Homo sapiens: one gene and its partners. The protein of the gene in region 1 purifies or fractionates together with the protein of each later gene. This does not show direct contact. Each region holds a gene or a part of one and is shown on either strand. Other genes may lie near its edges. The genes, in order: CCDC68, BTN3A2 and RPSA2.

The links.
Region 2: the proteins of CCDC68 (region 1) and BTN3A2 purify together in Homo sapiens (affinity purification with mass spectrometry; 2 studies listed by BioGRID and IntAct, with this or other methods). This does not show direct contact.
Region 3: the proteins of CCDC68 (region 1) and RPSA2 purify together in Homo sapiens (affinity purification with mass spectrometry; one large-scale study listed by BioGRID and IntAct). This does not show direct contact.

Annotation. Positions count from the first base shown.
Region 1 is NC_000018.10:54,900,891-54,904,273, forward strand, and holds the end of CCDC68 (coiled-coil domain-containing protein 68), read right to left. Parts: 3' UTR 619-3,383; downstream 1-618. UniProt on the Homo sapiens protein: Centriolar protein required for centriole subdistal appendage assembly and microtubule anchoring in interphase cells. Together with CCDC120, cooperate with subdistal appendage components ODF2, NIN and CEP170 for hierarchical subdistal appendage assembly.
Region 2 is NC_000006.12:26,368,165-26,371,820, reverse strand, and holds part of BTN3A2 (butyrophilin subfamily 3 member A2 isoform a precursor), read right to left. Parts: intron 3,644-3,656; 5' UTR 3,639-3,643; coding exon 3,554-3,638; intron 3,257-3,553; coding exon 2,909-3,256; intron 1,500-2,908; coding exon 1,218-1,499; intron 1-1,217. UniProt on the Homo sapiens protein: Plays a role in T-cell responses in the adaptive immune response. Inhibits the release of IFNG from activated T-cells.
Region 3 is NC_000019.10:23,825,488-23,829,143, reverse strand, and holds the end of RPSA2 (small ribosomal subunit protein uS2B), read right to left. Parts: intron 2,930-3,656; exon of another isoform or gene 2,809-2,929; intron 2,075-2,808; 5' UTR 1,983-2,074; coding exon 1,095-1,982; 3' UTR 276-1,094; downstream 1-275. UniProt on the Homo sapiens protein: Required for the assembly and/or stability of the 40S ribosomal subunit. Required for the processing of the 20S rRNA-precursor to mature 18S rRNA in a late step of the maturation of 40S ribosomal subunits. Also functions as a cell surface receptor for laminin.

The DNA of each region.
Region 1 (3,383 bases):
TTATTTGCAGGTCAGAAGAGAGGTAGAGATGTTCAAAGTAAACATGAATGAATTTGAGAAGTTGTGTGTGTGTGTATGTGTGTGTGTGTTCCTCTTAATTTTATAACTCTTTTTTCAAATTTAGAGTAAAAGCTTAGTAGATTTATTTTATTGTCAATTTAAATCCAAGGAAAAGCAGCAGAAAAATTCAGGAAGCTATTTATAAATCTGTTCACTGACCAAAACAATACATATACTATGGATAATGTTGTCATAAACAATCAGATAAAACCTACTGGTCTGGCGCTGGTGGCTCACGCCTGTAATCCCAGCACTTTGGGAGGCTGAGGCGGGTGTACCACCTGAGGTCAGGAGTTCGAGACCAGCCTGGCCAACATGGCAAAACCCTGTCTCTACGAAAAATACAAAAAAATTAGCCGGGTGTGGTAGCAGTCGCCTGTAATCCCAGCAACTTGGGAAGCTGAGGCAGAAGAATTGCTTAAACCTAGGAGGCGGAGGGTGCAGTGAGCCGAGATTGCGCCATTGCACTCCAGCCTCGTCAACAAGAGCAAAACTCTGTCTCAAAACAACAACAACAAAACAAAAACAAAAAACCACAAAAACCAAAAAACTACTTAATTCATTTATGCATAATTTTAATATAAAAAGAAAACCAAACAATTCACACAATGTAGCATCAATTTTCTTTATGGTAAGGCATATTATAAGCAATTATTCAAAAGATATACTATACTAATTGTTTAAACATTTTATAATGATAATTTGTAACAACATATGTAATCAAGGTAGAACTAAGTTTCTTTTCTTTTCCTGACTTCATGTATGAATTTCAGACCCACCTCAGACCTTCTTATCCAATAAATTCAAGAGTATAATTAGAAGTACATTATTTGGAATAAAACTGAACTAGTGTTTCTTTTCCTATATTTCCTGTGAAGTACTATTTTAGCTGAATAAATATTATTCCCCCTTGTAATCTTGTTTTTTCACTGAGAAGTGTTTTTTTTTTCATAAAAAAATATTTCAAATGATAATTTTATGATAGTGGATATAGGAAACAATCCATACATGACGAATAAATGATAAGGCTGATGGTATTATAAAGACAGCTACTCGGGAGGCTGAGGCAGGAGAATCGTTTAGTTTTGGGAAGGGCTATTATAATTTAACCTATAAAGTAAATTTCTCCCAAAGTTAGCTTGGCCCACACTCAGGAACGACCAAGGGCAGTTTCGAGGCAAGATAGATAGTTAGGTCAGATCTCTTTCACTGTCATAATTTCCTCACTGTTATCATTTTTGCATAGGTGGTTTCACCACTGTATTTCCATGTTCAAAAATGAGTATAGTGAAATCAAAATAAAAACCAACAGTGTCTTTCCACTTTTGACCTTAGAATAAGTTATTCTAATGGAAATCATCAAGATTGTCAGGTCAGTTAAATAAGCCCATTCCAAAATCTGAAATTTATTACAATCCAGCATGATGAATGAGGTATAAAAGGAATCTGGTCTCCTAGTAAAAGATGGATTCTCTTACTACACTGCAAATACTTAAAGCAGGACTCATGATCCTAATTTTCCTACAAGTGTGCCTGAAAATGTATCATGAAGAAATTCTTCAATGTGACATAAAGTCATAAATAATAAATGTATGATAAACAGATTTTTAGCAGGGAAGTTTGTCTGAACTGAGTTCTCACAATGGTAGTCCAGCTGGTGAAAGATCAACTCATTTCAGCAAAATATTGATTTTATCAGTATTTGTTGTTTCTTACTGTCATCCACAAAATAACACAGGCAGTCATCCAGGAAGCTATGTGTTGATTAAAGTGGCAAAAATAGAGAGATTTCTATAGCTGGGAAATTTCTTAGACCACCATGTGAGCAAGTAGAATGAATATCAATAGCCAAGTCAAAAGGTTCAAATTTTTGCTTCACAGTTAGCAGCTGGGCAAATTACTCAACCACTCTCAGTATCTTTCTCTGTAAAACAGGAATAATCTGCTTCTGAGGGCCTTGGGGAAGATAAAATAAATTAATACAAGTAAAGTGCTTAGACTTGTTGCTGGTATAAGGTAACTATGCCCTAAATGTTAACAGATAAATATACCTTCAAAATAAGCAAGCAATAAAAATGTTTCCAAAAATACCATGAAGCGTAAAACTCACACACAGTTACACAACAATTCAAGGATTACAGTACTTGGATAAATTTATAAATACATTACATCATCTCATTTTTATATACCTTCAAATATTTATAGACAACACTGATATTTCACATTCCATAATGAAAGAGTCAGCATCTTTTCTGAGCAAATATTTAAAGTTATACACTAGAGAGGAAGATCAAAGGCCTAAAGGAAATTCATCCTTTAGGGGGACCAAGGTCTCTCATTATACATTTAATTGAAGTTTGTTCTTTCCTGACTGTATGTCTGCATTTCTGCAAGTCAGAATTTGTTCTATTCACTGCAATCACAAACTCCACCTACAAAGAAGGCATGTATCAGAATTTAAGCAAACTTTCACAAATACACTATATATATCTTTCCAATTCATAAATTCAGATTCTTTCTGGCTGCAGACAGCAGTCATTATTCCTTTGAGCCTATAATATATACATTTTCATGGAAGTATGAGCTAACAGCATTATTTTTCTATCCCCCCAATATTTTATTTAGATACTATTAATAACTATCAAGAAGAAAATTAGTCACAAAGGCAGAGGAAACCATGTGCATCCCTGTGCGTTTGTGTGTACAGGTTACCTCTAGAAACCAATTTTTAATCCCAGAACTAAGAAGAACAGTCATTCTCTGATGTGTGGTGAGGCAGCCATGATTCTCAACTTCAGAGGGGCATATGGGTTGGGGAATTAGCTAAAAGGAATCTGCTCTTTCTCCTGCCCATAATTCAGTCAAGTATAATTCTCCCACAAACAATGGATCAGGAGATGAACTTATGTCACTGTACGATCTTTCCTATCATCCAAAAGTTAACTTTCAAATATGTTTGCTCATTCATACATATACATGCCCTTCATACATATATATGCAGGAAATGTATGTTCATTCATACACATATACACTCTCCCTTCTATTTATACTCTTAAAAACCACTATAAAAAAGTCAGAATTGACAATCTTAAAACAATCCCAGTAGAAAAAAAAATCTGAAAACAAGATTCAGATTTTTTTTTTTTTTTAATTTAAAGCAGAATCTGTCTTCCATCATGAGAAGGCACCTGGTTTCTTCAACTATTTGGTAAGTTTTGAAGAGTCCATCCATTAAATATAGATTTGTTTGATTTTCTGAAATGTCATCTTCTTGCAAAGCCATTGGTATGTAATAAGTTCCATTTAAATAATGGCATTTTGCC
Region 2 (3,656 bases), on another chromosome or scaffold:
TGTAATCTCAGCTACTTGGGAGATTGAGGCAGGAGGATCACTTGAACCTGGGAGGCAGAGGCTGCAGCGAGCTGAGATTGCACCACTGCACTCAAGCCTGGGCAATAGAGTGAGACTTTGTCTAAAAAAAAAAAAGACACACACACAACGAAAAACAGAAACCTTTCACATGGATCATCTCATACAAATGCAAGCTTATCTATCAGATAAATTCCTAGAAGTGGAAGTTTGGATCGATAAGTGTGTAGTTTGGATAGATATTGCTATAGAGCCCCCAACAGAGGTTGACCTAATGCACATCAAAAATACAGGAAGTTACATGAGCAAATGACTGAGAGTCACTGCCTTCCTACATTCCTATGAGAATCATGTATTATAAGCCAAAGCAGTTTTGATTTTTGCAAATATCATAAGTGAAAAATTATTTCATATGTTTACCCAGTGAGTGAGAATGAGCACCCTTTTGTGAGTTATTTCCTTTTCTGTGAATTGATAATTCATGGGCTTTGTTAACATTTTTTTTACTTGGTTTCTATTTTATTTTATTTTATTTATTTTTTGAGACAGAGTCTCGCTCTGTAATCCTGGCTGGAGTGCAGTGGTCTGCTCTCACTCACTGCAACGTCTGCCTCCTGGGTTCAAGTGATTCTCGTGCCTCAGCCTCCTGAGTAGCTGGGATTAGAGGTGCACTCCACCACACCTGGCTAATTTTTTGAATTTTTAGAAGAGATGGAGTTTCACCATGGCCAGGCAGGTCTCAAACTCCTGGCCTCAATGATCTGCCTGCCTCGGCCTCCCAAAGTGCTGGGATTACAGGCGTGAGCCACCATGCCTGGCCAAAACTTTTTACTAGGTTTTTAGAATCTCCTTCTGATTCAAGGAGATCAGCTCTTTCTCTATGATATGAGTTTGTAAATATATATATATAACCATTTTGTCATTTCACATTATATAAGGAGCTTATCTTAATGTTTTTCCTCCAATTCCCATTGCCTGTCATACTTTCTGGCAGATAGGAAATGTTCAGAAAATGTTTGTGTTACGAACACCTTTATGGAGGAAAGAAGCTCCCCTGGCACAAAGAGGAGCCTCCAGGTCTGTGCTTTGGGCCTTATATTCAGTGCAGAGACCCAGGTCGACCACAGATATTAACACATCCCCCTTCATTCAACTGCCACAGCTCAGCTCAGAAAACCTGAGGCCAAGCAGGTACTGACCTGCGATGGAAATGCTGGCTGTCTTTTCCAGGCCGAGGAGGGAATTTCTGATGATGCAGGATACACCCTCCCCGGAGCCGCCTCTCATGATCACAGATGCTGCTACTTCATATAGGCCCACTCCATCTGCAACCACAGGTGCTTCCACAGCTGGGATGTTCTCTCCCTTGGCGTTGCTCCACTGTATTTGGGGTTGGGGGTACCAGCCGGTGGACCTGCACTCCAGATGGATCCCTCCATCCTCATAACCCTTCACTTCGACGTGAAGATTAGAACCCAGTGCTGTGGAAGGATAATTTGGCCTAAATTCTGGATAGCTCCTGTATTAGGGAGGGTCTCAATGGGAATCAATGTCAGGCTCAGATTTGATAATTCAAGAGATATTTCATTCAGGAGCTGTTTACAAAAGTGTGGTCATGATGAGGGGAAAACTAAATTTGCTAGTGCAGTATCCCAGGGTCAGAAACAGTGGGGCTATTCCCACCCACCCCAATTACCAGAGGGAGGAGGAGAGGAAGCTGTTTTGAACACAAAAAAGAAGAGATTCATGCATTGAGGACTTCCTTTAGAGGAGCTGTTACCTTCAGCAAGGCAATGCAGCCAGCCTGAGGGTAACTTGCAGTAAGGAAGCCAGTGAATAAGCACCCAGACTTCTTCCTTTTCTCTTCCTCCTATGATTGTCTGCTAGAGATCCCCTTAAACCAAACCTAACCAGCAGCCACAGGGCAAGGGATTGCACTGAGAAAGAGAAAAGCTGTCCCAACATATGGAAACTGACACCGGGTCTCTGTGTCATCCTGTTGAACATAAGCAATTTCACAGAACACAGACAATGGCACTTTGTGACTATGATGGATCATGGGAAAAACAATACCACCCCACATCATATGTGAGCATAGAGAAAAACATGAACATTGTCCAAACCACAGCAGTGACCAAACATCCCCCCTCAGCAATGAGGGATTGCTGCCCCTTCATCAATTACAGCTTTTGTCTCACCCTGGTCTCCTTCTTCCTACATAAGATTGATTAAGGCTCTCACTCAGAATTAACCTGCCCACACCTTCCTGATGGAATCTCATCCAGAGCAGAGGGCTAAGTCTATGAACTCCCCCGGCCCCAATCCCCTAACACAAGCCCAAATTGTATACCAAGTCTGCTCTAACACCTTCTTACTGAGACCCCGCCACAGCTCCCCATGATGTGTGTTCTTCCTCACTGCAACACGTAAGAAATACAGCTAGTTCTACTACAGGAGTATTCCTGGGGATGGCTAGTTGGAGAACACTGGCAGCAGATACAGTCACTATTCCACCTCCCAGGACCCATGGTAGTGTGCACTTGGAGACACAACAGAAGCCATCTGTTACACAACTAAACCAAAATGACTGTGTACCAGTCACTGAAGAGATGGTTTCTTATGCTTCCTATCCCTCGTCCTTCACTTCGCTTATATCTCTGGTGGCCAGAGGAAAGGAGTTCTTTACTTGAGCATGTAGGGTACAGCAGGAATTCTTCCTAAAGGAAAACCTGTGTCTTACTCAAGGGCCTCAGAGAAGCTAAGTTGGGAGGCAGTGCAGGCAATTGCTAGTGAGCAGCCAGGAGTGTCTGCAGTGCTTTTGCAAGAGGGACTCTGCATCTGCTCTAGATCCTACAGAGAAATGTTCTCAGAACAAAACCTGGAGGCTCACCTGCAACCTTCAGCTCCACCAGGGCTTTTTCATAGAAGTCACCATCTTGGAAATAACACAAGTACTTTCCACTGTCAGAGGCTGTGACGTTGTGTATTCGGAGAGCAGCCTTCCCTGCAGTGATGCCATCCCGCAGAATCGAAGTTCTCCCTCGATACGGTGCACTCTGCCTGTCTTCCACTTCCTTTCCATCTGCATACACGTTCACCACCTGCCTTAGGCTGGAACTTACCCACTTCAGCTCCATGGTCTCTGCACTCATGGTCGGGAACAGGTGACAGGGCAGATCAGCGTCTTCACCCACCATGGCCAGGATGGGCCCAGAGGGTCCAAGCACAGAAAACTGAGCTGTCAGCACAAGGGGGAAGCTCCATCAGAGGGTTTTGGAGTTGGGGTCATGAGAGGAAGGGTCCTTCTCAGACAGGGAAGGCGAGATACAGAGAACCTAGAGGGGAACACAATCCTAACAGAAGGACCATTTGTCTCTTTGTGACAGGTGATCCTTCAGGTTGGGATGGACTTCCAGGTATGGGAATGAGTTAAAGGTTCTAAGAGGGCATTTAGGTAATTGTCTGCTTAATTAGGTAATTGAGATAATTGTCTGCTTCAGAAACATAAATGTGGAATCATGGAATCATTCCCTACCTGAGCAAGGAGTGAGCAGCTGGACCAAGAGGAGGGAGACATGAAAGTTGAGCAGAAGGAAAGCCAGGGAACTTGCCATTTTCATCTATGCTGCATATCAAGA
Region 3 (3,656 bases), on another chromosome or scaffold:
CATGCAAACATTAATCAAATAAGAGCAGAAAGAGTCAAAATAATATCACACAAGCTACATCTTAAGTCAGAAAGTATAATATTTTATAAAATGTGCTTGAAATTGAAACTCCAAAGAAACAAAGAAGGACATCAAAAAATAATAGATTCATTCACAGGGAATCTATGACAAATTTGTGTGTGTGTGTGTGTGTGTGTGTGTGTGTGTCTCACATTAGGGTTCCAAGTATATAAAGCAAATATTGACAGAATGGAAGAAACACACAGAAAGCAATATAATTAGAACAATATATTTTAATACCACACTTTTTGTAATAAAACTAAAACAAGAAAGAATGTTAATAAAAGAACAGACTACTTAAAGGCAGTATAAAACAATTATTCCAAACAGAGTTATGGAGAACACTCCTCAACAACATCAGAATACACACCCTTCTCAATAGCTCATACAACATTTCCCTTGAAAGACCACATCTTAGGACAAAAAGGAAGTCTTATCAAATTTTTTAAAAGTAAATTTCTATGAACTACATTCTATGACCAAAATGGAATGAGAATATACAACGATAAAAGCAAAAAAAAAAAACTGAAAAATTTACAAATATATAGAAACTAAACAACACACTCTTGAGTGTGCTCTTACACAAAGGTTGAAATACTTAATATTGCAGAGTCCATCCTGCTCAATGCAATCTACAGATTTAATGCAATATTTTTCAAATTTCTCATTGCATTTTTGAAGAAATAGAAACACCAACCTCAAAAGTATACAGAGACTCAAAAGAAAAACAAACTACCCAACAATATTAAAAAAAAAAAAAGAAAGAAAGAATGCTGCAGGCATTAAAGTGCCTGATTCAAAACACATTACAAAGCTACCAAATTAAACAATTTGATATGAGTATAAAGGTGAAAAAGTAGACTAATAAAATAGAATGCAGCACATATATAAACTTTCACATATATGGTCATATAAGTAGTCATTTATAGACTCATAATTATTGCAGCATTTTTTTTTTTTTTTTTTTTAGAAACTGATGTTTATTTTCCATCAACCATTTTTCCATGCTGCTTAAGAGCCTATGCAAGAACAGCTTAAGACCAGTCAGTGGTTGCTCCTACCCATTCAGTGGCCTGAGCAGTGGGAGCTGCAGACCAGTCTTCCGTGGCAGGCTGAGCGCTCCAGTCTTCAGTAGGGAATTGCTGAATAGGCACAGAGGGCACCTGTACACCTTCAGACCAGTCTGCAACCTCAGGCTGAGTAGCAGTGAACTCAGGAGAGGGAGCAGTCCATTCACCCTGAAATTCCTCCTTGGTCACTGCCTTCTCAGCAGCAGCCTGCTCTTCTTTTTCAATCTCTTCAGGATCTCTGTAGAAGTACAGATCAGGCATGACCTCCCATGGGTGTTCACGGGAAATGGTGCCACGCATGCGCAGAACTTCCCGAGCCAGCATCCACCACATCAAACCCACTGAGTGAGCTCCCTTGTTGTTGCATGGGATGGCAATGTCCACATAGCGCAGAGGAGAATCTGTGTTACACAGCGCAATGGTAGGTAGGTTAACATAAGATGCCTCCGTGAGAGGCTGGTGGTCAGCCCTGGGGTCAGTAACCACAAGAAGCCGTGGCTCCCAGAAGGCTGCCTGGATCTGGTTAGTGAAGGTTCCAGGAGTGAAGCGGCCAGCAATTGGAGTGGCTCCAGTGGCAGCAGCAAACTTCAGCACAGCCCTCTGGCCAGTATTCCTGGAGGATATAACACTGACATCAGCAGGGTTTTCAATGGCAACAATAGCACGAGCTGCCAGCAGAAGCTTCTCCCAGGTCCTCTTGAGATTTATGATATAGATGCCATCACTTTTCCTTTTATAGATGTAGTGTTCCATCTGGAAGTCAAGATTGGTGCCACCTAAGTGGGTTCCTGCTGCAAGGAACTTAAGGACATCCTCCTCCTTCATTTGCAGGACATCAAGGGCTCCGGACATTGTGAAAGTTTCCCTTTAAGTTACGACGGGAATCCAGAACAACGCCGTATGGACCCCTCTGCAGGTAGCGCGGAAAAGCTGCAGCATTGTTACTGTAAGCAAATAGGTAAAAGCAATGCAAATATCTTTCAATAAATCATTCAGTAGATATAATTTGAAATATAAAAATTCTTCCCAGGCACGGTGGTTCACACCTGTAATCCCAGCACTTTGGGAGGCCAAGGCAGGCAGATCACAAGGTAAGGAGTTCGAGATCAACCAGACCAACAATGGTGAACCCTGTCCTTACTGAAAAAAAAAATACAAAAATTAGCCAAACGTGTTGGCACGTGCCTGTAATCCCAGCTACTCGGGAGGCTGAGGCAAAAGAATTGCTTGAACCCAGGAGGCAGAGGTTGCAGTGAGCCAAGATCGCCCCACTGCACTCCAGCCTAGGTGACAGGGCAAGACTGTCTCAAAAAATATATATATATATTCTGGAATATACTCAGTATTCAAAAGCAGGAAATATTCTACCAACTATAAATATAAATCTTGATGGCATTATGCAAAATGAAATGAGCCAATCACAAAAAGACACAGATTTTATGACATACATGAAGTAGTTATACTGTTAAAAACAAAAAACAGAGTGGTGTTTGCAAAACGCTATAAAACAGAAAAAATTGTGGCCAGGCATGGTGGCCCATACCTGTAATCCCAGCACTTTGAAAGGCTGAGGCAGATAGATTACCTAAGGTCAGGAGTTTGAAACCACGCTGGCCAACATGGTGAAACTGCATCTTTACTAAAAATGCAAAAATTAGCCAGGCATGGTGATGGGCACCTGTAATTCCAGCTATTCAGGAGGCTGAGGCGTGAGAATTGCTTGAACCCGGGAGGTGGAAGTTGCAGTGAGGTGAATCATGCCACAGCACTCCAGCCTGAGTAGCAGAGTAAGACTCCAGCTCAAAAAAAAAAAGAAAAAAGAAAAAAAGAAAAAATTAAAAATTAGTACTTGTTGTTTAATATGTGTTAAGATTTAGCTTTGCAAGATAAAAACATTCTAGCAATATGTTGCATGACAATGTCAAGATAATTGATATGACTAAATATTTAAAAATATTTTGTGGTAAATTTTGTTTTTTTTTGACAAGAAATAAACAATAATAACTAAAAGAGATACAGAGTTATGATAGTTTTAAATTATATTCAAATCCAAAAGTGTTTCTCCCACACAGAAATCATATAGATTTACAAATAAATAGGTTGTTGAAATTATAAAAATTTTATGGGCTGAGCATGGTGGCTCACACCTGTAATCTCAGTACATTGGGAAGCTGAGGCGGGCAGATCACCTGAGGTTGGGAGTTCAAGACCAGCCTGACCAACATGGAGAAACCCTGTCTCTACTAAAAATACAAAAATATTAGCCAGGCATGTTGGCACATGCCTGTAATCTCAGCTACATAGGAGGCTGAGGCACTAGAATCATTTCAACCCAGGAGGCAGAAGTTGCAGTGAGCTGAGATCGCGCCATTACACTCCAGCCTGGGCAAGAAGAGCAAGAGTCCATCTCAAAAAAAAAGAGTATTTTATGATGACTCATCTACGCAGAATTAGAAAACCATTCACAACAAACCTACACAACAAATATACAAGTTAGAAAAAAAATACAAGGATAACATTTATTTT